Linked DNA regions of Homo sapiens. The protein of the gene in region 6 purifies or fractionates together with the protein of the main gene of each other region. This does not show direct contact. Each region holds a gene or a part of one and is shown on either strand. Other genes may lie near its edges.

Region 1 (4,174 bases), about 91 Mb from region 6:
TCTAACTTCTCTGATTCTCCACTACCCACTCCTTATTACGTTTTTGAGACTTGTCAAAGTTTTATATTAGGGCTAACTGGGACGCATACAAATCTGGTAACTTCGCCAGGGCGGGAAGTTAGGAAGGAGCAGAGCTGGCTGCAGGTGTCTGGTCCTGACCACTCCTCTATGCCACCCTTGAGGAGCTTGCTGACTTTCTCATGACGTTCTCCCATTCCAGGAGCTGCAAGTGCGTTATCCTGGCTGGAGCACGGTGTCAATCACGGCAGACTAAGGCCAGCGGTGATGGCTTGAATGCCAGGCTGGGGGCTGGGATTTTTCCTGAGGATTTCACAGGACAGAGGTTGGCTTGGAAAGACCAAGGTGGGACTGAGGAACATTCCCCCTACCCCCAACCTCGGTGGGCTGTTGCAAGCCTGGAGGCCAGAGAAGACGGGCCTGGGATGCCGCGGGCGCAGGGGCAGGCAGTGAAGGAGATGGCTGCCTTCGGTAGAGCTGGTCGCTGAGGCAGAAGAGGAGGGCGTGGGGCGTGGGGCGTGAGGTGGCCGGCGCCCCGGCTGGCCAATGGCCGGGCTGCGGCCCCTCCGCGGGGCGGGGTGGGCCTGGTGGGCGGGCGGGGCTCGGGGCGGGGGCGGAGAGGGAGCCTGGTGGGCGGGCGGGGCGCGTCTTGCGGGCTCCCTCGGGTACCGGCGCTGCCGCACCCCGCCGCGCTCCCGCACCCGCGGCCCGCCCACCGCGCCGCTCCCGCATCTGCACCCGCAGCCCGGCGGCCTCCCGGCGGGAGCGAGCAGATCCAGTCCGGCCCGCAGCGCAACTCGGTCCAGTCGGGGTGGGTGAGGGGCGGCGGCGGGGGAGGGGACGACTCTGCTGAGCTCAGCCTCTCTTGGTGGATGTGGGGCGGGGCGCTCGAGTAGGACCCGACGCCAAGGGGAGGGGGCTGACCTGTGCTTGGTCCACCCCAGGTAGGGGCTGAGAGAGGCTTGAGGTGGAAGTGGGGGTCGGGCACTCTGACCTGGTCGAGGAGGGGCTAGGGTTTGAACCGGGGACAGAGTCTAGGTGAGCTGGGGCTTGGGAGCTATTAGCGTAGAGGATCCGGGTTCGGTTGCTCTGGCGAGGGCTCCAGCATCACAGGTGAGGAGCAGAGCTCAGCTTGTGCTCGAGGATGGGGGTGCGGGGTCCTGGGGCGATCGGGGCTCGGGCTGGAGCGGGTGGGGTCGCGTCTTTTCGGGTGTAGGGGAGCTGCGTTTTCAGGGGCCTCGGTTTCCTCCCGTCTCCGGGCGGGTGCGGGAAAGAGGGGCGCCAGGGGCGGGCGGCGGGGCGGAACGGGGCGGGGCGGCGGGCCCAGCGAGGGGGGTGGTCCGCGCGCCTCTGATCGCGTTCCGGGACACACAGGCGGCGGCTGCGGGCGCAGAGCGGAGATGCAGCGGCTTGGGGCCACCCTGCTGTGCCTGCTGCTGGCGGCGGCGGTCCCCACGGCCCCCGCGCCCGCTCCGACGGCGACCTCGGCTCCAGTCAAGCCCGGCCCGGCTCTCAGCTACCCGCAGGAGGAGGCCACCCTCAATGAGATGTTCCGCGAGGTTGAGGAACTGATGGAGGACACGCAGCACAAATTGCGCAGCGCGGTGGAAGAGGTGGGTGCGCCCTGGCGGCGCGGGGCTCTGAGAAGCGCCAGACTGGGGGCAGCGAAGTCTGGGAAGGCATGGAAGAGCGCTGGCCAGGGACCTCGGGTCCCGCGCAGGGCCTGGGAAGGGCCGACAGCAGATGCGGAGTGACCTGGAGGCAGCGCACGGTGATCCCTACTCCCGCCTCGTTTTGCCTCCTTGCCAAAAAGTCTGGATCTGAGCCTGTCCACCGAGAGGCTCTGCACTGGACCCTCCCTAGGTAGCTGGGGCCACCACCTGCCTGCAGTTGGCGTCAGGCATGCCGTTGGCCTTCCCTATTGTCAGCAGAGGTTTGCAGGGCCCCTGGTATTCCAGCACTGTGGTTTCACAGAAACCCGGGACAAGCTCCAGGCATCGCCAAGTTCTAGCTTGTCCGTTATGCTTTGAGCTTGTTAGGATGCCATGCAGGGACAAAGAGGCAAAGAGCCCTGAGCTTTGCTGGCAGTCTGTCTGGGCTGTCTTGCTTCTCACGCAATGTGGGGGCAGAGAGGGAAGATGGAAATCCTAAATCTCAGCACTGTATGAGTGGCGGATGAGGATGTGAGAGGCAATACCCCCTCCACCCAACGGTGCTTCGCAGTTGTCCTGGGCTCAGGTCCTCCTCTGCCACTCAGTAGCAGGGTGACATTGGGCAAATCACTTAATATCCTGCACCTCAGTTTCCTGTGAAAACTAAATGTCATATGTGTGGGCACCTGGCAAATAATAGGTGCGCAGTATTTAGCAACTATTATCAGATACCACGTACCTTAGCAAAGCTTTGCCTAGCTTCTGCCCTCCATCACCTCCAGGTCTAAACACTGTGGGTGGCATCTTGTTCTGTCCTCTGTGATGGTCACCCACGCATGCCCAGGGCTACCTGGGCAGGAGATGTCACTGGCCCAGCCCTCTCTGTCCAGGTGCGGGGAGCTGTCCCTGGTGCCTGGGGTGGGTAGACGAGGGCGCTGTTGGGCCCAATCTGTCTGTAGCCTGTGTCTATAGAGAGGAGCCAGCCGTCCTAGTGAAGGAGGCAGCAGGAAACCAATGTCCAGGCTGGTTGGCCCCTGGTCTGGCTTCACATCCCTGCTGTCTCCAGCTTGGTATCCCCCTTGGGCAAAGCCTTAACTGCTGGCCCTTGTCTCCAGGGGGAAGTTGCTTTCTCCCCGCAGCCCTTTGTAGTTTGGGGCTATTTCCCCTCCCACTCCACAACAGTTAGCCTGTGGAGTTTGCAGTGAAGGGGACACTGGCTTGGGAGGCAGTGAAATGGGCAGCTGTCCTTGAATATCCACTGGACAGGCCCAGATCCCAAGACCCATGATCTTTCTGTTTCCTGTGATTGCAAAACAATCATGACATGGAGCAATTAAAGGGTGAAGGGATTCAGATAGGCCCCAATGTCTCTTAACTCTGAAGCTTCAAATTAAGTGGAGTTTGCGATGCCTCTGGTTCTAGGGCAGGCCATCTGCTTTCCTTATCCAGGTTCTAGGACTTTCCCTCCTGCACACAGATTCCCGGTAAGACTGACTAAGTCACCTCTATGTTTTTGTGCCCACCACTGTTCAGAAAGTCTGCAGCGTGGTCCTCTGACGTTAGCTTCTGCTGAGGGAGGAGAGAGAGCAGCAAGGGCCTCTTCAGTCTCTTCTTGAGCAGAGCAGTGTGGGGCCCTGCAGGACCTAGTGACGGGGTCTTCTCCATGGGCGTTATCCAGACTGGATTTTGCCAAGACCCCAGCTTTCCTCCCTCTAGATGTGGCTCTGTGTAGGTTGGGGGGTTGAAGTTTGCCACCAGAGGAGATGTGGGCTGTCACTTCTACCCCACTCTTTCCCAGAGGTGTCCTCGCTGGCAGTGGGTACAGGATGAGAGAGGTTGAACACCATGGCAGGAGAAGAGGCAGTGGGGACTGATCTTCCCTCATCCAGTCCCTGCTCTGCCACTTACTGGCAGTGGCGTTCCGAGTCTGAAGTGGAGAAATGTCCACCTCTTAGGGTAAGGTGAGAATTAAATGAGATGCTGCAAGTAAAGCAAATCAGTGAGTTGGGCAGCTATCCCTGAATATCCACTGGTCAGGTCAAGAGCCCAAGATCCATGATCTTTGTTTCCTGTGATTGTGAAACTATCATGACATGGAACAATTAAAGGGTGAAGGGAGTCATATAGGCCCCAATGTCTCTTAATTCTGCAGCTTCACATTAAATTGAGCTTGTGATGCCTGTGGTTCTAGGGCAGGCCATCCGCTGACTGCCTAAAATGGGGTTAAGTAAAACACGTGTAATACAGGTAGCTTCATTGTGAGGTGGCTGTAAGGATGACATGATGGTTGGTTGTAAATAAGTAACAGGTATCATTATCATCATATTACTAGTAGCAGTATGAATGATAACAAAACACCACCAGTGTCTGATAGATTCTCAATAGAATCTATCTTTTAAAATATCTTAAACCATTAAAAATTAATCTTAAAATACTAAAAGTATCTTTTAGATATCTTCAAAAATAGAATACAATAGATTGTTTATAGACTGTGGTTATTAGTA
Region 2 (4,068 bases), on a different chromosome or scaffold from region 6:
TCCTGGCTAACACGGTGAAACCCCGTCTCTACTAAAAATACAAAAAATTAGCCGGGCGTGGTGGCGGGCGCCTGTAAGTCCCAGCTACCCGGGAGGCTGAGGCAGGAGAATGGCGTGAACCCGGGAGGCGGAGCTTGCAGTGAGCCGAGATCGGGCCACTGTATTCCAGCCTGGGCGACAGAGCGAGACTCTGTCTCAACAACAACAACAACGACAACAACAACAACAACAACAACAACAAAGGTTAAGATGGTAAATTTTATGTTCTATATATTTTACCATAATTTAAAAAAAAAATGACTGGGCCTGGCGCGGTGGCTCACGCCTGTAATCCCAGAGCTCTGGGAGGCTGAGGCAGGAGGATTGCTTGAGTCTAGGGGTTCAAGACCACCCTGGGCAACATAGTGAGACCCCCGTTTCTATTAAAAATTAAAAATTAGCCGGGTGTGGTGGCACCTGTCTGTAGTTCCATCTACTTGGGAGGCTGAGGTGGGAGGATGGCTTGAACCCAGGAGGTCGAGGCTGCAGTGAGCTGTGACTGCACCGCTGCACCCCATCCTGGACGACACGGTGAGATCCTGTCTCTAAAAAAATAAACAAACAAACACACAAAACTACATTGATGCCAAGAACAATTACTGCATGCTCACTATGCATTAGGCATCTTGCTAAGCTCTTTACCCGTGTCATCTCGTTTGTCTCACATACTCCCTGAAAGGTAGGGTCACTAACCTATTATATTTTACGGATTGGCGACAACCTCAGAGAGGTTAAGTCACTTGCCCAAGGTCACACAGCGAGTCTCAAGCCCCAGCCGGTGAGCATCACGATCCTTTGCCAATGAGCCGATGCTCGAGAAAGGGTCGGATAGACAACAGGCACTGCATAAAGGTTGGTTAACGGGATCGTGTTTGGCTGCAACGTGGAGCTCCCGGGTCGAACGGCGAGACAGCTGCGCGTCCCCGAGCCGCCGCGCGCCCGGTCCGCCGGGGCGGAGTCAACGCCGCGGATTGGCTGCTGAGAAAGGGGCGTGGCTCGTGGCGGCCGGTGGGCGGAGTCGATCTCTGGCCGTAAATACGGCGCCACATGGCACTGGCTCGCGAGGGCGGGGGCGGGCGGGCTGGCCGGGCGCAGGCGCGCTGAGGGCGGGCGCCCCTCGGCCTCCGTGGCCCCTCCGGCGGCCGCGACGTCTCGCGAGAAGACGACCGGTAGGAGGGGCTCCTGCGCCGGGGGCGGGGCCGGCGAGGGCTGCCTCTGGGGGGTCCGCTAGTCGCGGGGCGGCGGCGGCGGCTGCGGGCGCGAGGTGAGGGGCGCGAGGTGAGGGTCGCGAGGTGAGGGGCGCGGCGGGCGGCGGGCTCGGGGCGCGGTCTCCCTCTCTCTCGGCCAGTGCTGGGCTCCCAGGGCCCGGGCGGGGGTCCCGGGCCGCGCTGAGGGGCGCGGGTCGGCTCTCCTTAACCTGGCCTGGCGGGCGCGGCTTGGGCCTGGGTTCGAGTTCCCGCGCCGGCGCGCAGTGTGACCTTGGCCCTGCGCGCGCCCTCTCTGAGCCCCGCTCGTCGTCCTCGGCCAGGGGGACCCAGCCCTGGGGCCCTGATCAGCGCGTTCTGCGGCTCCTCGGGGTCTGGACGAGAAATCTGTGGTTCTGATTCAGCGACAGCAGAGGCTGCAGCGGCCCCGCCGGCCCCCAGGAGTCCCCCTGCCCGGCATCAGCCTCTGCCGCCCGGCAGGGGTAGGACCAATTCCCGGGCTTGGAGTTCCAGGATCCCCAGCTCCCGAGGGCCCCCGTGTGCCTGCTGTCACCTGAACGGGGCTCCCCGGCCCCGCCGACCGCAGCCCTGGAGCCTGCAGACGCCAGCAGCACCGGCAGGTCGCTCAGGGTATCCCTTAAATGACCTCTCACTCCAGAAGCCGCAGCCCTGCCCCTCTGGGAGAGGAAACCGTGCATTTAGTCCGGGAACAGTGGGACTTAGACCTCCTCTGCGGGCTCCCGGCCACCGAGACACCGCCGGCAAAGCCTTGGCTCGGGCAGAGGCTCCGTCTGGCAGGCAGCACAACAAGCCATAGTGTTTCCAGCATTATTAAATTATTTAGTTCATAAGCGGGGCTGTGGGGACTCGGAAGCCCCGGGGTGAATAGGAATGTGAGTTGCAGGCGCGGTGCTGGACGCAGTACATCTTCCAGGACACCAGGCCCTACGGTGCTGTTCCCGGCTGTGGGTGGTTGGGGACAGCTCAGCGGGTCCCCCACTTACCCCCACGCGGGGACCCGGGTTAGCCCCTCACCGTGAGCATCTGGTGTTGGGAGTCAGGGCTGGTGTCTGAGTGAGGATGGAGAGAAAACAGGGGTAATGAGGAGATTGCTACACGAAGGTGCAACGCTTGAGATCTGAAAGAGCACCTGCCTGGAATGGCATAGATGTTTGATTTCCCTGCAAAGGAGTTTATGGGACTTTGGGCTGACGCTTTGGGGCCAGCAGTAACTGTCTGCTGTCACTCAGCTGACTCCAGCTTTATTATCAAACCTCCAATCGAGTGCAAGATGCTAAGCTGGGGTAGATGCCGGTAATAGCGTGGGCCTTGCCCTGGGAGCTCACGGCCAGCCTGGCTACAACTGTGTGGAGTTGAGACTGTGGTGCAGGCGTTAACAGAATGTGGCGACATTTTCCGACATTTTCCACAGTGGAGAGGACCTATGAATTGGGGCGTTTGGAGGCAAAGGGCATGCAGAGATGTGGAAGTGAAAGTGATGTTTGGGGGAGATGGTGGGTCGCCGTGTTCTTGATGAAGTGGGGTTTGAGGATTGGGTTGGAAGCTAAGACTGGAAGGCCGGGCGAGGTGGCTCGTGACTGTAATCCCAGCACTTTGGGAGGCAGAGGCGGGCGGATCACCTGAGGTCAGGAGTCCGAGACCAGCCTGGCCAACATGGTGAAACCCCATCTCTACTAAAAATACAAAATTTAGCTGGGCGTGGTGGTGCACACCTGAAGTCCCAGCTACTTAGGAGGATGAGTCAAGAGAATAGCTTGAACCTGGAGGCGGAAGTTGCAGTGAGCCGACACTGGGCCTCTGCACTCCAGCCTGGGCAACAGAGTAAAAAAAAGACTGGAAAGATGGGTTTCTGATTGTGCAGGGGCCTGAATGCTGTGTGAGGGAGTTTAAACTTTTATCCCTTTGGTGGTGGTTTGGGTGCGACGCGATTAGATGTGTTTCAGAAAAGTGGTCGTGGTGAGAATATGGGAGGTGGGTTTTGCCTCTGGGCAGTGGAGCTGAGTTGAGTAGCCTTGTGGGGCGTGGGTCTGGGGCAGTGAGAGAGTGGGGGCGGGCATGGAGCTGAAAGATGTTGCCAAATCCACTGGGCGGTGGCGCTTTGTGAGATGTGGCGACCTGTAACAGCGAGGGCAGCCGGGACTTCTCACCTGCGATGAGGAGCGCTGCGGCCAGGTGGGAGAGGAAGGGCCACACAAACACACGTGGGTTTTAGACCTGCAGAGTTGGCGGTATTGGTGGCCATCCTGGAGGAGATGTGACCTGGTGGAGAAGAGACAGCCTGTACAAGGAGGGAATCCCCAGGAACCCCAGTGGGAAGGGATCCAGAGCTGAAGAGAGGCCCGTTGGTTGGCTGACCTTGGGCGTGCAGTTCCTTGACTACGCACAGTCATTGAGGCTGGCAGGTGATTCTCTTCTAGTGTGGGTCAGGGGCTGAAGGAGCCATCAGTGGGAAAAGACGGGTTATTGATGATACTGAAACACATGCGGCTTGTTTGTCATTTAAAAAAACCGTACATCTTGAGTTTCGATTCTTAAGTTGTCTTTCTTTTCGGAGAGTAGCTGTTAGTTTCACACTTGCTTAGTGGGTCTGTGGCTGCAGGCGGGACTGTGGTTCTCCAGCCCTGGCCCACAGATGTGCCTGGAGATAATTGACTCTCCAACTTATTACTTCCTGCTGTTAAGGTGGTGGTTTCTGTAACTGTTTAGAAACTTTAAAGATATTTCAGAGAAGAATGGGAGACAGGTACAGTTGAGTACGGGGTGGGGGCACAGTTGAGTATGGGGTGGGGGCACAGTTGAGTAC
Region 3 (3,995 bases), on a different chromosome or scaffold from region 6:
TTTGGTAGCACAGGCAGGATTTCATGGAGAAAGGAAACTGCTAGACAGTTGTTCTGGAAAGTAGAATCCATTCCCCCAAGTATGGGAGGGTTCTGTCCCTGAGGAGGGGTCTCAGAAAAGCAGATATGCTGATGGACTGTGGAAGGAAGCTATCTGCATAGGAAGGATGAAGACATTCTTCCTAAACCGAAAGGGATCCAAGTCCACTTTAACTTGCTCAATTACAGCTTAACCAAATTCAGCTGATCTTATAATACAAAGTCACAAATCCCATGACAATCCTGCTGCCTTCATTCTGCAGCCACTTAAGCTAAACACCTCTCAACCACCTCAAAAATCTGTTTACTCTCTGAAAATGGGATCAGGGACTTCCTCTCCTGATTACCTACCCAATATGAAAATACAATATTTATTTTCACAGATCGTATTATTTTTTAAATGGCAAAAATATTACTTCCATTCATATTTTAGAAAATTGAACCAAGATTTGGAATGACATGCTTTTAATGTGGTTCCTACAGCTTTTCTATGTAAAACGCAGGCTGGCACCGTTTCACACAGGGAAGTAGCTCAGAGAGGAGGCATGTCCACAGACCGCGTGGTGACAGGTGACTGGGGGAAGTTCGGACCTCGGGCTTCAAGTCCTGACTCATCACTAACGGGTTCTAGAGCTCTGGGCCCTTCGATCTTCATCTTGAAAATGACAGCCTGAAAGGACTTTTTACGGCCCCCTTCAGCTTTAAGCTGGTCCTGACCTAATCACATGTTTCAAGTTCTAACTGAAAATTACGAGAAGGAAATTAGGAAAGATGTATCAAAGTCCATGTTTATCCTGGATTAACTTTGTCACCATTGTGCTGCTGTGGAGGCAAACCTGTTGCATCACATGGAATACCCTATTTCTGGCTGTGCATTAGAAATACAAGAGGCAGCCGACTGGCTTTTTATATTTTCATTTTTTAAAAAAGTAAACAATAGTATCCCTCGATGATGGGAAGTTCTCAGGTTTCACCTTTATAGTCTGAAAGTACACACAGAATGCCACCTGGCAGACAAGGGCCACACAGCTGAACCCGGGGTATGCTGGCTAGCTTTACCACGCGTGAAGACTCACTTTAAAGCCACGTCCCCAATCCTTACCAGGGGGCTGATCAGTGCCGTCGCTGTTACTGGTGGGGCGATTAACCGTGTAGCGGCCAGAGAATGAGGTTTGCGTATTACCTGCCCATGTATTTATACCCACCTCGTGTGGCTTGTGGTCACCAGAGCAAGAGCATGCAAATTAAAAGCAACGAGATTTGACCTTAGATCTTACTGGACACATCTACTACTATATTGGAAACAGGAAAAGAAAGAGCTTTTGACACAGCACCTGGTGGAAGGGGCAAACCTCCATCTCCCCATACATTGCATTGTTGCAGTCTTCAGAGTTTCAAAGGCTTGCCGTTTCTCCCTGAAAAACACGGCCGGTCGGGAGGGATTTCTGGCGCGGCCCACTCACCTCTTTGATCTTTGCCCTTTTCTCGCGGATGGCGGCGTCGGCGGGCTCCCGGCTCTCCACCCCGATTGGGGGCACGAAGTCCACCGGGGGCAGGCCTCTGAACGGCGCCTTGTCACGCAGCTGGTCCTGGGCCACCTTCTTCTTCTCCAGTAGGATGTCTCTTTGGATCTCCTCGGGCAGCTTCTGCAGGGTCTCCTTGGCTTCCCTGAGAGCCCGCTCGTGGTTTTCGCGGATCCTGGCCAAGTTGTCCTCCAGGGCGGCCTCCGGGTCCCCGGGTGCCCCCTCCTCGCGGCGCCGGGCTCGCCCCTCGGCCGCGTCCTCGGCGCGCGCCCCGGGCCCGGGCTTGTGGTCGGCGGCCGGCTGCAAGGCGGGGCTGGAGTGGAACAGGACCCCGCTGAGCAGCTTGGAGGAGTCTGGCAGGAAGAAGATCGCCCCGAAGCAGAGCGTGATGAAGGCGCTGAATACCAGCAGCAGCACGAACTTCTCCGTCAGGCGGAGGGCGGCGGGGCCCGACCCCTTCCTGCCACCGCCGCCGCCGAGCCCCCCGCCCAGGACGCCGCCCGCGGGGCTGCTGAAGAGCGGCAACAGGCCCCCCACGGGCATCGCTCCCGCTGTCCAGTGGTCCGGCGCCGCGCCGCTCAGCAGCCAAACTTCGCCGCCGCTGGGAGTCCGCGGCTGCGGGGCTGGGTCCTGCGTAGCCAGGCCGCCCGACCCCCTCGGCTGGGCTGCGGATCCTCCCTGGGGGAACAACTCCGCGCCGGGTCTTCTCCCCGGGGCGGCTCCTCGGGCACACAGGCACGCGCGACAGACCGCTGGCTGCAGCCCCTGCGGGGAGAGAAACAGTAAAACGTAGTAATTACGGCGATGATAAAGTTTCCAGCGGGTCTCCGCCCTCCGACTCCTGGCGAGCCTCCAGGACCGCTCCCCTTAAGCAGAGTCCTGTCCAGTCCGGGCACCGCCCTCGCAGCCCACTCTCTGGACTTGGGGTGAAGTTATCAGGTCCCGTGGGTAGGGGAGGGGTGTCCCGCGCAGGAAGGGGTCAGGGCAGCGCGCGAGCACCTCGGGGAGGGGCAGCGCACCTCTGGGCAGGAGGGGCGCAGCGTGGGCGGGAGACTCGTCAACTTCGCCCGCTCCCCATCTCCGCGCTGAGACTGCTGCCTCTTTCCTAGGCTGGGCTGAGCGCGCTGTCCCACGGTCCCGCAGCCCCGGCGCGGCTCAGGTGGGCGAGCGCGCCGACCTGCGGGCGAATGGCAGCGAGTAGAGCAGCACGGTACACTCCGCCGCGGCCCCGCGAGCACTAATCTCACTGCCGGTCTTGGGGCGGTGGAAAGCGAGGGAGGCGACGCGGCCGGAGAGTGACGGCGCGGCCGGGCCAATCACGCGCCGCCCAGGGTCCCGCGGGGGCGGGGCCGAGGCGAGGAGGGGGATGCGCGGGGCGGGGAGTTTACGGGAAGCGCAGCCTCGGCGGGGCCCGGCCGGCGGCGGGGAGGTCGCGGGGCCGGGAGGCGCGAGGTAGGCGGGAGCCGCGGTGAGGAGGACGGTCGAACCCGTGGCTGAGGCCCAGCGCCGAGAAGCGGCAGGCAGAGTTCGGGGTCGGGGAGTTTATCCTGCGCTGGCCTCGGCAGGGGTCCCCGGGGTGGTTGATCCTCGACTGGCCCGGGAGGCGCCTGGGTCCGCGCGGGACCTCTCTGCCTCCTCCTCCGACCCGTGCGGGGCGGTCGGGGGCGCTCCCGAGGGGGTCCCGGGAAAGGCGGGGTCTGGCAGGGGGTCCTGGGCGCTGGGTCGTTCAGAAGCACGGCTTTACTCCAGTTACCCTCTTTTTATCCAAGGCCGGGGTTCCCCGGGTGCCTGGTAGCAGTGAAACCCCAAGTCCCTCGGTTAGGGGAGCCGTGACCCTGGGAGCTTTTGAGCTCTCTGGTATAACATCCTTTTACATCCTAAGAGACACAGTTCTGTGCTTGCTTAGGACTTTTTTCGTATGCGCCCTTTCTTCCCCCAAAAAACAAAAAACCGAAAAAACTTGTATGTCTCTCCCGCCCACCCGTACTTTCACTATTCATTTACCTCATAGAAGTTGGTCAAATTTTCCATTCGAAGACGAGTTTTATGCTGCGGTAGCTTCAAGCAATAAGTCGAACACTGTGTTGAAATTAAGTCTTGGATCCGACTACTTCCAGCGAAGTGAGGAGTTGGTCCAATAGAAATTATTTTCCAAAATGTGTTGTAATTCTCCTGTTGCTCCACAAATAAGGGGTTATCAGAGAGGAAAACGTTGACTGACTTCGCATTTCTGAAAGCTGGTTTGTAGTCGCCTTATTTCATCCTTACCCTTCTCTGGAAATGTGACATTAGTTCTGTTTGTGCTTAAGACAAAGGAAACAGCTGGCACCTTTCGGGAAGGTGGCTCCAGTACAGTTGTTTCCAGGTGTTAAGCTGTATGAGAAAGTAGAAAAGTAATCAGAAATCCTTACTAGTTTTCATTTAATCATTTAAT
Region 4 (3,500 bases), on a different chromosome or scaffold from region 6:
AGGAGGCTTTTGGCAGGCTTGCCTCATTGCCCTTGCAGGGAAGGCTGCCTGTCTCTAGCCATCTTCCTCTTCTTACAGCTGTGCTGAGACGTTTTTGGCTGGGGCAGGGCTGCTGCACTGAGGGTGCATCCCACCTCCTGCAGGGAAGGCAGCCAGACCACATTCCAGTGAGTGGAACGTGAGGGAAGGCTGTCTGCCCACTGCTTTTGTTCCATAAAGAATGAGGCTTGCCCTCCCTTCCCCTCTCCTGCTTCCTGGTAGCTGAACCAGGGCAGCATTTGCTGTGAGCTGGGAGCCATGTGTTGAAGACGGCGGAACAACAAAAGTGAAGACAAAAAAGAAAACTGCATCACTGGCATGTGCCCTTGTCAGTCAGCACTTCCGGGGCTGTGTGTGGCCTTCAGGAATTTCAGTTTTCATGCATGACCCTGAGAAGACTCAGCCCCCTGCCACAGTAGGACAGGTTTCTCAAACAACCCACTAGGGTTAGGGGCCCGCAGGTTTCATTCTGCCCCTCTCCAGGTCAGGGTTCCTAATGCACTCCCCCCAAAGCTCCCCATCACCCTGCCCTCTCCAAATCCTCGTCACTGTCACAAGCTTGGTCTTCCAGGCACCGTGTATGGCCGTGGTCCCTGTAGTCGCCCATACAATCACTCCCTTCTTAGTAACAGGAATCTTAATTTGATTCAGCTTCAGAAATACTTTTTCCAGCCTCTTTTGCTGACAGGGGTGCCTGTGTGATCCAGTTCTACCCAGGGAATTGTGACCCAGCGCTCTGTGAGCTTCCAAGAGAGGAGGAGGCAGCTGCCATCCACCCTTTACCTTCTTCCTTCCTCCTTCTTCCTAAAACGTGTGCTGGCTGGAGCTCCCGCAGCCAAGGAATGAGACCTGACCTCGTGCTAAGAAGAGTGAGACTGAGACCTGAGAAGGAGCCTGGGCCCTGACGGTGGAGGAACCCCCACACCAGCCTGCACCATCGACCTCTCATTTCCGTCCGGCGCTGGGATCCAGGCTTCCTGCTCTGCAACTGAATCCATTCTGACACACTGTCTTACAGTTCTGGTATAAAGGGTCAGACTTCAAGTTAGCCAAGGGAGGCAGTGGGGGAAAGTAACAGCCTTGGCACTACCCGGCCCCCTTTCTATCAACTGCCCCCGCTCTGCCCGCTCCAGACACATGTGGAGGGGGATTAAGTGTCGAGGGAGCCAAGGTGAACAGCAGGAAAAGGAAAGCAGTGGAGACAGAGATTTCCACCAGGCTTTACTCACAATGCAGCCATACGGATTAATCCCACAGCCACCACAGAAGGTTGTGTTACCCCCGCCTCACAGGAAGAGGCTCTGGCAGGAAGAACAGCTGGACCCGAGTCAGACACGCAGGTCACGGGCCCAGAGCAGGGCCGGCCCAGGCCCACCGCACTCTATGACATCGGCCACCAGGCTGGTCTCCAGGAAATAGGGCCCTGGTGTCTACTTCCTAAACTCCCTGTGAATTGCCAGGGGCCAGAATGTGGGTAGGTGGGAGAACAGATGGAGGCTGAAGGACCTCTGGTGGCAAAACACTGACCTCTACAGAGGTCTCATCAGAAAGCCTGAAATCCCACGTTAGATATTTCAGAAAGAGGGCAAGCTTCTGTTCTATACATTTGTATGTTATTTAAAGTTACACAGCCAGACAAATATGTACATAACACTATGGGTTTTGGTGGTAAATGTTTTATCTATGCATATTATGTATAGATGTGAGGAAGACGTCTGGAAGGATACACCACCCACGCGTAAACACACGTTAAGGGAGCGTGTGCAGTATGTTGTATCTAAAATGAACATGTAATACGAAAAGCCAGTAGCTGGTATTTGTAAAGGGGTGCTCTGTATCTAACCCTCTAAATGCCCCCCACCTCCCACCCTCTTGGCCTGCTCTGAGGGCTTCGTCTCCGTTTCCCTGGCCCCTCAGCCTTGGCAGGCTTCTCATGCAGGGCCCAGTGAAGGCTCAGGAGGGCCTTGGCCAGACTCCATCAGACATTTGTCTCCACTGGGGGCGACTTGATCCACAAATGAGATCCCACCAGTGACCCAGGTAAGAGGATTGCAAAGGCCAAGAGGCTTGAGGAGGGAAGGCTGCCCGGAAGGCAGTCTGTCCTGGAGACAGAGTGAGCAGGAACCCACAGTGAGAGCAGGAGTGGCAGGAGGTGGTCACAGCTGGAGGCAGAAGCAGGAATGCAGCAGCAGCAGCAGCCAGGCGCAAGGCAGCTCTGTAAACCTGCAAACTCGAGGCTGGCTGAACTCTACAGCATTGACTAACACGGGGCTTTTCCATCTGGCATTTCCACTTGCTTTGGTATCCACAGGCGCTTCCGGGCCCGGGGGCAGCCGCCACGCACACACGCATGCCACCTGAGCAAGCCTTGATGGGTGAATACCAGGAGACCCCTGAAGGTGCTCCTTGCTTCAGGAGCCTGAGAACCCAGTCTTTCGTCTTGTAAGGGGGTCCTCTGGCACCGCAGGCCCCAAACTCTACTCCTCCCGCCATCTCTCCTGGACCTCCCCGAGCCACGCAGCCCCCTCTTCCTCTCCACCCTCACAGGAGACCGCCGGTGCCTGGCCTGAGAATCCAAGTGCAGCTGGGGAATGGCCTGGAAGAGGCCGTAAAGGCTGGAATGGAACAGTCCAGCCTCACACAGTGGCTAACAGCACAGAGTTCATTCCAATCCGGCTCTCCCTCAACCATCTGTGTGACCTTGGGCAACTTCACCTCTGTGTGCCTGCTTCCTCACTGGTAAAACAGGAGCAAAACAGTACCCACCGCCTAGGCTTGCTCTGAGGATCAAGTAAGTTGGTACTTATCCTGGAGCACTAAGTAAGTTGGTACTTATCCTGGAGCACTAAGTAAGTTGGTACTTATCCTGGAGCACTAAGTAAGTTGGTACTTATCCTGGAGCACTAAGTAAGTTGGTACTTATCCTGGAGCACTAAGTAAGTTGGTACTTATCCTGGAGCACTAAGTAAGTTGGTACTTATCCTGGAGCACTAAGTTGGTACTTATCCTGGAGCACTAAGTAAGTTGGTACTTATCCTGGAGCACTCAGAACAATGCACTTGGCTAGCTGCATGACATGCTATGCGCATGGAGCGTGGCGGCCAAACTCCTCCTGGCTCCACCGGAAAGGGCACAATGCAGCTATCGCCGGGCCGATTCCACGTCTGAAATCACGGATAATGACCACCTCCCCTTATTTAACAAAAAATATGGCTAAATAATCCATCTAAGCAACAGGGGAAGGCAAAACCCGCTCCACACAAATCTCAAAGGTTAAAATAAAACCAATGTCTGACACTGGTTTCTGAGCCCAGATGGGAGGTTGGAGCTGCTCCCAAGGCCACGGCCCTCGACACAGCTCCCCAGACAACTCTGCCACCATCTGGTGTCGAGCTCCAAAGTAGTTTCTGCCAAGAAAGTTGCCTAGCCCAGGGTTTTTGGTTTGTTTTGTTTTGAGACGC
Region 5 (3,500 bases), on a different chromosome or scaffold from region 6:
ATACTATCCAGTCTTAAAATTCATATTTTAAAAGAAAAGCTGGGTGTGGTGGCACACGTCTCTAGTCCCAGCTACTCGGGGGCTAAGATGGGAGGATTGCTTGAGCCTAGGGGTTTGAGACCAGCCGGCAACATAGTGAGGCCCTGTCTCTTTAGAATTAAAAAATGTTTAATAATTTAAAAAAAAAGTACACGGGAAAATGCTCCTAATATTAAATGATAAAATCAAGTTATGCAACTACATATTCAATATGCTGTCAATTTTGTGAAAAGAAGAAAAAATTATGTAATAGAAAACAGTCTGAAACAAGATGTACAACTAAATATTTATGTATTTTTTTGACTAGAGGAATTATTATCTCTTCATATTTTTCTGTGTTTTCCAGGCCTTTCTTTGGTATACTTGTATTCCTTTTTATATAAGGGGGAAAACAACCTACTTGAAAAAGCAACAACAAAATAATAACAGCAAAAACCTATTGGTGGGAGCCTGAGTCAGTATTTCTCTACTCATGAGTTTACTCAGTGTTTACCTGAGTGTTTACATTTTTTTCCGATAAAATACATTCTTGATTCCTGCTGTTATTTAGCTCATGGATTATTTCTGAAAAACTAACCAAATTAAGGCAGCTCTGCAGTTATCCTCCACTCCCGCTTACCACTTAGGAGTTTGCTCCATCTTTGGTAGAGCCCCAGGCAGCTGTTGACTTAGACATGGTGAGCTTTTTTATTTCCACTTTTGGGTTCAGTACTGAAGCCCTACTGTTAGAAAGCATTGATTACAATTTGATAAAAGATGGTCTGTCTGTGTTTTCCTTGTGTGCCATGGAATGGCTATTTTTCTGTTTAATTTTATTGTTAAGTGGCTTGAAAAATAGTGTTTTGGACCTGGGGATTCTCATCTGGAGACAAATAGGAAGTGATCCCAGGAGTTTTGGAAATTCCTACAATAGATTGTCAGCTTCTTGAGAGCAGACATGTTGCCTCTTTTAGTTATGCTAGATATTCTTAGCGGGTACCAAGGCACATAGTAGATGCATAAAATATTTGTTGACTGAATAAATTAATAAATTACCAATAAGGGAATTGTTCTTTGAGAATTAAGCTTTAAAAACAACAAAATCAGAGCAGAGATATGGAAAGGCACTTTAAGGAGACCAATGCTTTTGAGACCAACAAGATTGACTAAAATCTTAACAAATATATTAACACATACAAAGAAAGAATGTATACATCTGAAGAGTTATGTGTGCATGTTTGTGGGGGATGCAAGGACCTAATTGGCCCTAGAAATCTGAAACAGGGAGAATCACTGAAGCCAATGTCCTTAGGCCCAGAGCTAACAGTTGGCTATGAAAACTTGTACTGACATTTCCCTACCTCTGGGAAGGAGATTATACAGTTAGTTAATACGTATTTTGAGTACAGAGATAAATTATTCAATTCAGAACCATTTTTTGAGAACTTACTAGGAGTCTGCTTCTAGACTAGGCACCAGGATAATAAAGATTAGTACAATACAATCCTTTCTCTGGAATAACTACCAGTAGCAAGTGAAAAGGTAGAGGCCAGGTGCATTGGCTTATCCTAGCACTTTGAGAGGCTGAGGCAGGAGGATCACCCGAGGCCAGGAGTTCAAGACCAGCCTGGACAACATAGTGAAACCTCATCTCTACAAAAATAAAAAAAATTAGCTGGTGGTGGTGGGCACCTGTAGTCCTAGCTACTCGAAAGGCTGAGATGAGAGGATCACCTGAGCCCGGGAGTTCAAGACTGCAGTGAACTGTGATCATGTCGCTGTACTCCAGTGTGGGTGACAGAGGGAGACCCTGTCTCTTAAAAAAAAAAAAAAAAGATGCAACGCACAGAGTGCTACTGGAACCGTAGGAGAAGCATTTAGCTTGGAGGCAAAGAGGGTGCTCTAAGGAGTTCTTTCTAGAGAAGCATCTTCTAGAGAAGCTGATGCCTGAACAGAGTTGTGAAGGTTGAATTTGAAGGATTCAAAGGGTATTCCCATGCAATGGGAATGCAAGAGCAAAGGCACAAAAGTGAAACAGCCTGGTATATAGAAGAAACTCCACAAGCAGTTTAGCACTACTGGAATATAAAGAGCAAAGCTGGTATGGCAGCTCCAGAAGAGGTAGGTGGTGGCTAGGTCACAAAGGATCTTGTATGCTATGCTAAGAAGCTTCAATTTTAAACTTTTTAGGTAGATGGTCTATAAATTTTTTTCATGATGCACTTTAATCCATTGAAAAATTGAGAATGTACCCCTGTATATAAATTTATACATTATAACACGTAATTTTATACTAATGTCTTATATATGTGTAAGAGATGCCAAAAACAAAATGTTAAAGGGATTGACAGAAGCAAATATGAAGAGTTCTAATATTTTCTTTTCATGCCCGAGGGATTTGTCTTGTGCACCTCTTAAGGCAAACACTATAATACTTTAATGCTAGTATTAAATATAAAACTATTAATACTGTATTAAATATACTATAATACTGGTAAATTTCTGAATAATTTTTGCAGGAGTATAGAAAAGTGGTAATTGTGGAGATGGAGATGGATGGAAAAGGGAGGGAGGTCAGGGTTAGAGGTTAGGGTATCCATTAGCATGTTAATGAAATAGTCCAGGAGAAAGTTGATGAGACTCTGTCTTCAAGGAACCTCTCAGTAATTTCATTCAATACAAACAAGTAGAGGTAGTCCTAAAGAGATGGGTAGAATTTAGATGTTCTGTAGTAGAGAGATTAGAGGAAGTTTTTTTTTTTTTTCGAGACAGAGTCACACTCTGTTGCCCAGGCTGGACTGCAGTGGTACGATCTCAGCTCACTGCAACCTCAGCCTCCAGGGTTCAAGCAATTCTCCTACCCCAGCCTCCCGAGTAGCTGGGACTACAGGGGTGCACCACCACACCTGGCTAATTTTTGTATTTTTAGTAGAGATGGGGTTTTGCCATGTTGCCAGTCTGGTGTCAAACTCCTGGCCTTGAGCATTCTACCCACCTTGGCCTCCCAGAGTGCTGGGATTACAGGCGTGAGCCACTGCACCTGGCCAAGAAGTTTTTTAAAATTGAGATATACCACTATCTAATTCCAGAACTTTTTTCTCACCCCTAGAAGAAGCCCTGTACCCATTAGCAGTCACTCCCTATCCTCTCCTCCCCCAGCTACTAGAAACCACAAATCTGCTTTCTGACTCTATGGATTTGCCTATTCTGGACATTTCATAAATGGAATCGTACAATACGTGGCCTTTTGTGTCTGGCTTATTTCATTTAGCATAATATTTCCAAGGTTCATCCATATCCTAGCAGGTATCAGTACTTCATTTCTTTTTATGGCTGAATAATATTCTGCTTTATGGATATGCCACTTTTGTTTATCCATTCATCAGTTGATGGACATTGGGTTGTTTCTACTTTTTGGCTATTATGAACAATGTTGCTCTTAACATTTATGTATACATTTTTGTGTGAACATATGTTTTTAA
Region 6 (2,654 bases):
TCAATTTCTTAAATAGGGACCAATTTATTTCTCGTTGCTGCTCATGAAATTGGCCACTCCCTGGGTCTCTTTCACTCAGCCAACACTGAAGCTTTGATGTACCCACTCTATCACTCACTCACAGACCTGACTCGGTTCCGCCTGTCTCAAGATGATATAAATGGCATTCAGTCCCTCTATGGTGAGTGACACTGGGAAAATCAGCCATTGTAGTTTTGCAATGATGGTCTTCAGAAGAGCTTTCAAATGCTACATAAAGTATTTATGATTTAGTTCAAAGCACCGTGAGAATGTTTGGAAAGCATACAAATGGGCATATATTGAAACGTATCACATTTCCCCTAATGTTCCCTTTAGGACCTCCCCCTGACTCCCCTGAGACCCCCCTGGTACCCACGGAACCTGTCCCTCCAGAACCTGGGACGCCAGCCAACTGTGATCCTGCTTTGTCCTTTGATGCTGTCAGCACTCTGAGGGGAGAAATCCTGATCTTTAAAGACAGGTCAGGCTGAAAAATTATATTTTCCTACCATTTTAATCTACAATGTTTAGAAAGGAAAACACGCAGAAACTTGATAGAGATTCTTAGACATTTAAAACAAAAACGTTTCTTCTGAGCTTGGAATCATTTAGATCTGGTGCTGCCTTTTCCCACATTTTCCTAAAATTGTCAGGTTCATTTTTGAAGGCACAGGCTGATCTGGTTCTTAGCTTCTAATTGCTGTTTCCAAATGTCTTAAGTCACAGTTACTTTTCAAAAGGCATGAGTAGATCTTTCGAATAATAATTTTATTTTTACTTCCTTTAAAAATGACATCAGGATCAACATTACATTTAATCAAGTAATTTACTTACTGATGGATCAATATGCACATGACAAACATTCAAAGAGCACAAATGAGAAGCAAATTAAAAATTTTAGTTCCCAGTTCTCCCTGTACTCATCCAGAGTCAAGACTTTTTGTGCATCCTTCCAGAATCTTTCTACACACATACAAGAATATATTTACACAGCACATACACGTATACAAACACGGCCTAGCTTTTGGAAGAGGGTATAGCACACGCACTGTTTTGCATACATTGCAGGTAATTAAAGCTTATGCTGGGCTAATTCATTTGCACGATAGAATAATTTTTCTTTCATAGAAGACATTACTCTGGAAACCTATGACGGGAGACTCACTACAGTCTTCTGAAGAAAAAGGAAAGAAATTTTCTAATGGCAATATACCTGATTTCTATCTGTCATCCAGCCTAGAAGATGAGAGAATGGGGGAAGCTGGGTGAGGCAAGACGGTGAGGAAAATATTCTAAAGGTGAAAGATTGTTTTTCAATTTACATTTCTTTTTACATATATTTTAGGCACTTTTGGCGCAAATCCCTCAGGAAGCTTGAACCTGAATTGCATTTGATCTCTTCATTTTGGCCATCTCTTCCTTCAGGCGTGGATGCCGCATATGAAGTTACTAGCAAGGACCTCGTTTTCATTTTTAAAGGTAATTACTATATCATCATTTGTTTAACTTGCCAAAGTAAACCCTCTCATAAGAAATTGAACAACACTTTAATTTTCCCTACTACAAGTTCTGGCTAATACAGTAGTCAACGGTAATGAAGAAATAACCAGGGCTGATATCATTGTATTTATATTTCATAGATGATAAAAATAAAGACAAGAAGATAAATTACCCAGAGTTGTAAATTCTCTCATTTGACCTTAGTTCATTCATTCAGTCTGCAAATTTTTGTGAAAAGCCCACTGTAAGCTGGTGACTAAATCTAAAATTTGGGCTACTACTTTACCATGAAAATCAAAGATGCTAAAGTGTATTTCTAAAGCGAAAGGGCTTAACTGTTATAATTCAATATGACTCTGAATTATTTATATTTAACAGGAAATCAATTCTGGGCTATCAGAGGAAATGAGGTACGAGCTGGATACCCAAGAGGCATCCACACCCTAGGTTTCCCTCCAACCGTGAGGAAAATCGATGCAGCCATTTCTGATAAGGAAAAGAACAAAACATATTTCTTTGTAGAGGACAAATACTGGAGGTGAGATGCAAGAGAAATGACTTTGTATGGAGCCTAATTAGGGAAATTAGTTTCTTTTACTAAGGAAATCCCCCACCCCAACCTTAGGCCTGCTTCTCTCTTAGTAGGAAGGATGGGACTTCAGACAACTGTGGGAAAGTTCTTACTTTAAAACAGCAGCACCTTAGGCTCTCCTGCTTTCAGTCCCAAGTGCAGTTGGCTGGTGCTTCCCTTGGTGCTGTCACCCCACCTGCCTGGAGCCCCCTCTTCTCTCCTCAACCTATTCAAATCTTGCCCATCCTTCAAGTCCTGGCTCAAGTCTCATCACCTCCATGCAGCTTTCCCTCGTGGACTTTAGACCCATTGGGAAAATGTTCTGAGAACCCAGACCGCAATTTAGCGTTCCCTTCCCATTGTCTTTTAGTTTGGCTCACTGTCTCACTGTGTGTTTGTCACTGTCTCATTGTGTGTTTGTTTTGTCTTCCTAACACTACTATATGATTTTCAAGGGCTACCTCTAACCTCACCCACTTGTCACCTCTACCTGATAATGATGGCTCATTTAAGAGATGATGATCAATAGCAGTCCAGTTTATGGATACAACCCAACACTCAC
Region 7 (3,500 bases), on a different chromosome or scaffold from region 6:
GACCAAACTCATTCCTCCTCTCCTTACGAATTTCAGTATAACTTGTTCTAAGCTAACTTTTATTGAATGTTGTGGGCTGACTGCTATTCTAAGTCATTTGCTTCTCTCAAACACCCTAAGAAGTGCTTTGACCCATTTTACAGATGAAGAAACTGAGACCCAAAGAGGTTAAGTAACTTTCCAAGTGGCGAACACAGGTGGCAGAGAAGATTGAAGATTCAAACTCTGGCTGTCAGCCTCCAAAACCTGAATTTACCACTGATCTCCATGGCATTGGTTTGGATTAGATTACCTTTAACATCTTTTCCAACTCTGAGATTCTAGGATTCTCTGATGTCAGGACATTATAAACCTATTATAACTCTCCTAAATTTGTCAAACCAATTCTAGATCTCTATGATTACAGACATGATACTTTTAGAATCAATATTTAAATCAAGGTAGGATTATTACACAGAAAACACAACTGAGTAGAATCTACCTTTGCCATGTTGTTCTTTTCAGAATTGACCCTAAAACACAGCGCTATGTTTGTCAGAGCCAGTCATTTGTAATGTGTCAGAATTTCGACTCTAGGCAAGTGCTAGGAGCTAAAATGCAGGTTCCTTCAAACTTCCAAGTAGCTGCGGTGCCAAGCTGATTTCGATGAGTTGAGTTCTTACTGAGCAGTTCAAATGACCAGACTGTAACCAGGGGCTTCATTCTCTCACCCACGAAGCACTAGGGCAGTCAAGGGGAAAGACTGACGCAGAAGGAATGAGGTTCCCATGGGCTGGGTCCAAAAGACCTAGAGCGAGTGCTTAGTTGAAACATTTGCCAAAACCTCAAGGAACACCCACACAAAAATAAGAAGTTGCTCGGCACAGAAGTCAGGGTAGGGGATGTTCTTCGAAGGCCACACTCCATGGCAGGCATACAGCAGCACGCTTAAACATGGTTCCTGTTAAGGCTAGAGAGGCACCATTCACATAGAAGAAGTCATCATCGTGACTCTACCCACCCCGCGCCCCCACCGCGTAATTGAATGCTGAGTGTGGACGGCACTTCTTCCAGCACTTGGCTGCGTTACCGTGCTCAGTTGGCAAGCCTTGGGGGAGAAGAGAGGTTCAGAAGGAAGACCATCTGAGTCCATCAGAACAATGTGTGCTTTTAACAAGGCAGGGGCGCCCAAACTCAGTAGGTCCAACAGACCAAGTTATGCTATGAAGGTCTTGTGGACCACCTACCCCCGCCAACCAGTCACCACTTAAAAGATGAGAAAACGCCAGCTCACAGGCCAAATGGGAGGCATTTAGAAGAGACACCAATGAAGAGATGTCTGGCTTTGTATTAATTACTGTAGGTAAATTAATACCAAATGCCAGGAAGTAAAGTAGAGGCATTTTCCTATTATAAACCCTTGGGACAAGCCCAGAGACCACCAGCAGTCCAGGGCTTGTGTACGCTGAGAACTGAGGGGATAACAGAATTGTGCAACACCTTGGTGCCCCACCGCCCCCGTTACCAAATCTCACAGTTCACAGTATCGCCTTGGCACACTGGGCTTGTGTAATACTCATGGACTTGACCTGGAATCACAAAGCGGACTCAGCTTCTGTTACATTCATTCACCCCAGTGACTCTGGGCACACACTGTGCCTCTGAAGGAGGCACAGTGGCCATAAATGGAAATAGCATTTGCCTGCTTCTGGGGACCTTGGTCATAGACTTCTGAGGCTTTCCTGGGAGCCAGTCTAAGATAATGGGTAAGAGTATGGACTCTGAAGGCAGAGTCCTCTGCTTGGAATCCTAGCCCTGCCATTTCCCAACTGTGTGGCCTTAACAAGCTACTTAGCCTGCCTGTGACTCAGGCTCCTCATCTATAAAATGGGCATAATAGTTCCTACCTCATAGGGTTGTCATGGTGATTCGTGGGCTAATATTAAAGGAGATTTCTCAACCTCAGTACCATTGACATTTGGGGCCGGATAATTCTTTGTTCTGGGGGCTGTCCTGAGTATTATGGGATGTTTAGCAACCTCCCTACCCTCTACGAACTGTTGTGACAACCAAAATTGTCTCCAGACATTGCCACATGTCCCAAATATTTCCTAGGGGGGCAAAATTGCCTCCAGTTGAGAACCACTGTATTAGATTATGTCGTAGATACAAATAGCCAAATATCAGCAATTTCACGTGGTTCAATCTAACAATTATAAAGTATTTAACAGTTAAAACTCTTTGAACTTTGTAGATACATTTATGTGCTTCATCTGGGATAAACGAACCCAATGCTTTCACCAGACGCTCAGAAGAATAAAAAACATGGAGAATTTCTAGCTTGAATTCAACGTTCACCAGCCAAATAGAATTTCTATAAAGTGGGGTTTGTAATACATCCCTCCCAGGGCTCTTTTAAGGATACTGCAAGGAGAATGTGAGTGAGAATGTTTTTGTGGGCTGGAAAGTGTCACAGAGATATCATGAGAATGCTGGCTGAGTTCACGGGACTCAGGTCCTAAGGTTGACAAAGAAAAAGGACCTTTGTCACAGCTACTTCTCTGGATTTCTGAAAAGGTGCTGGGATGTCAGACATGTGTAGCCGAAGGAGTGTTGTGGGGCAGTTGGAATGGGGGGTATGGCTGGCTGCACAGGAAGGTTTCTCTGGGAAGGCACCAACCTGGCTAGTCAAGAGGATCGGTGGCTTCATCTGGGGTGAAGGGGGCCCTGGGGTGGGTAGATCAGTGACCGGCCACTGGACAGCTGAATAGGGGAGCGAGATTCCCTCAGATCCAATGTCAGCAAGCCTTCTGGGTACTGAGACTCCTCTCCTGTGTTCCTCTTATTTTATTGATACATAATAAATGGACATATTTTGAGAGTCCATGTGGTATTTTGATATATTCAAAAATGTATAGTAATCAAATCAGGGTAATTGGGATATTCATAACCTTAAACATTTATCGTTTCTTCATGCTGGGAACATCTGAATTATCCTCTACTAGCTACTTTGAGATATACAATAAGTTATTGTTTACTGTAGTCATTCTACTGATTCAATGAACACTGGGTCTTACTTGTTCTGCGTACTCGTATTTTTGTACCCATTAATTATATCTCTTTGCCCCAATCCTTATTACCTTTCTTGCCTCTGGTAACCACCAATCCACTGTCCATCTTTATGAGATTTACTTTCTTAGCTCCCACATGAGTGAGAACATGGTGTATTTGTCTTTCTGTGCCTGGCTTATTCCGCTTAGCAAAACGACCTCCAGTTCCAGCTGCATTGCCACAAATGACAAGATTTCATTCTTTTTTCTGGATGAATCATATTCCATTGGGTATAGATACCAGGTTTTGTCTATCCATTCATCTGTTGATGGGCACTTAGGTTGATTTCATATCTTGGCTATTGTGAATATTGCTGCAGTCAACATGAGAGTGCAGACCCCTCTTCCATATTCCGATTTCCTTTCCTTTGGATACATACCCAGCAGTGGGATTAGGGATCATACGGGTGT

What was found.
Region 1: the proteins of MMP3 (region 6) and DKK3 purify together in Homo sapiens (co-immunoprecipitation; one large-scale study listed by IntAct). This does not show direct contact.
Region 2: the proteins of MMP3 (region 6) and CHST12 purify together in Homo sapiens (co-immunoprecipitation; one large-scale study listed by IntAct). This does not show direct contact.
Region 3: the proteins of MMP3 (region 6) and MAN1A1 purify together in Homo sapiens (co-immunoprecipitation; one large-scale study listed by IntAct). This does not show direct contact.
Region 4: the proteins of MMP3 (region 6) and MGAT1 purify together in Homo sapiens (co-immunoprecipitation; one large-scale study listed by IntAct). This does not show direct contact.
Region 5: the proteins of MMP3 (region 6) and KIAA0319L purify together in Homo sapiens (affinity purification with mass spectrometry; 3 studies listed by BioGRID and IntAct, with this or other methods). This does not show direct contact.
Region 7: the proteins of MMP3 (region 6) and TIMP3 purify together in Homo sapiens (affinity purification with mass spectrometry; 2 studies listed by BioGRID and IntAct, with this or other methods). This does not show direct contact.

What each region holds. Positions count from the first base shown.
Region 1 is NC_000011.10:12,005,827-12,010,000, reverse strand, and holds the start of DKK3 (dickkopf-related protein 3 isoform 1 precursor), read left to right. Parts: upstream 1-1,374; 5' UTR 1,375-1,418; coding exon 1,419-1,631; intron 1,632-4,174. UniProt on the Homo sapiens protein: Antagonizes canonical Wnt signaling by inhibiting LRP5/6 interaction with Wnt and by forming a ternary complex with the transmembrane protein KREMEN that promotes internalization of LRP5/6.
Region 2 is NC_000007.14:2,402,343-2,406,410, forward strand, and holds the start of CHST12 (carbohydrate sulfotransferase 12), read left to right. Parts: upstream 1-1,268; 5' UTR 1,269-1,331; exon of another isoform or gene 1,332-2,688; coding exon of another isoform or gene 2,689-2,758; intron 2,759-4,068. UniProt on the Homo sapiens protein: Catalyzes the transfer of sulfate to position 4 of the N-acetylgalactosamine (GalNAc) residue of chondroitin and desulfated dermatan sulfate.
Region 3 is NC_000006.12:119,346,962-119,350,956, forward strand, and holds the start of MAN1A1 (mannosyl-oligosaccharide 1,2-alpha-mannosidase IA), read right to left. Parts: upstream 2,801-3,995; 5' UTR 2,581-2,800; intron 2,327-2,580; coding exon of another isoform or gene 2,105-2,326; coding exon 1,502-2,104; intron 1,496-1,501; exon of another isoform or gene 1,409-1,495; coding exon of another isoform or gene 1,373-1,408; intron 1-1,372. UniProt on the Homo sapiens protein: Involved in the maturation of Asn-linked oligosaccharides. Progressively trim alpha-1,2-linked mannose residues from Man(9)GlcNAc(2) to produce Man(5)GlcNAc(2).
Region 4 is NC_000005.10:180,785,807-180,789,306, forward strand, and holds part of MGAT1 (alpha-1,3-mannosyl-glycoprotein 2-beta-N-acetylglucosaminyltransferase), read right to left. Parts: 3' UTR 1-3,500. UniProt on the Homo sapiens protein: Initiates complex N-linked carbohydrate formation. Essential for the conversion of high-mannose to hybrid and complex N-glycans.
Region 5 is NC_000001.11:35,547,404-35,550,903, reverse strand, and holds part of KIAA0319L (dyslexia-associated protein KIAA0319-like protein), read left to right. Parts: intron 1-3,500.
Region 6 is NC_000011.10:102,837,956-102,840,609, reverse strand, and holds part of MMP3 (stromelysin-1 preproprotein), read left to right. Parts: intron 1-16; coding exon 17-181; intron 182-357; coding exon 358-502; intron 503-1,366; coding exon 1,367-1,500; intron 1,501-1,899; coding exon 1,900-2,059; intron 2,060-2,654. UniProt on the Homo sapiens protein: Metalloproteinase with a rather broad substrate specificity that can degrade fibronectin, laminin, gelatins of type I, III, IV, and V; collagens III, IV, X, and IX, and cartilage proteoglycans.
Region 7 is NC_000022.11:32,853,705-32,857,204, forward strand, and holds part of TIMP3 (metalloproteinase inhibitor 3 precursor), read left to right. Parts: intron 1-3,500.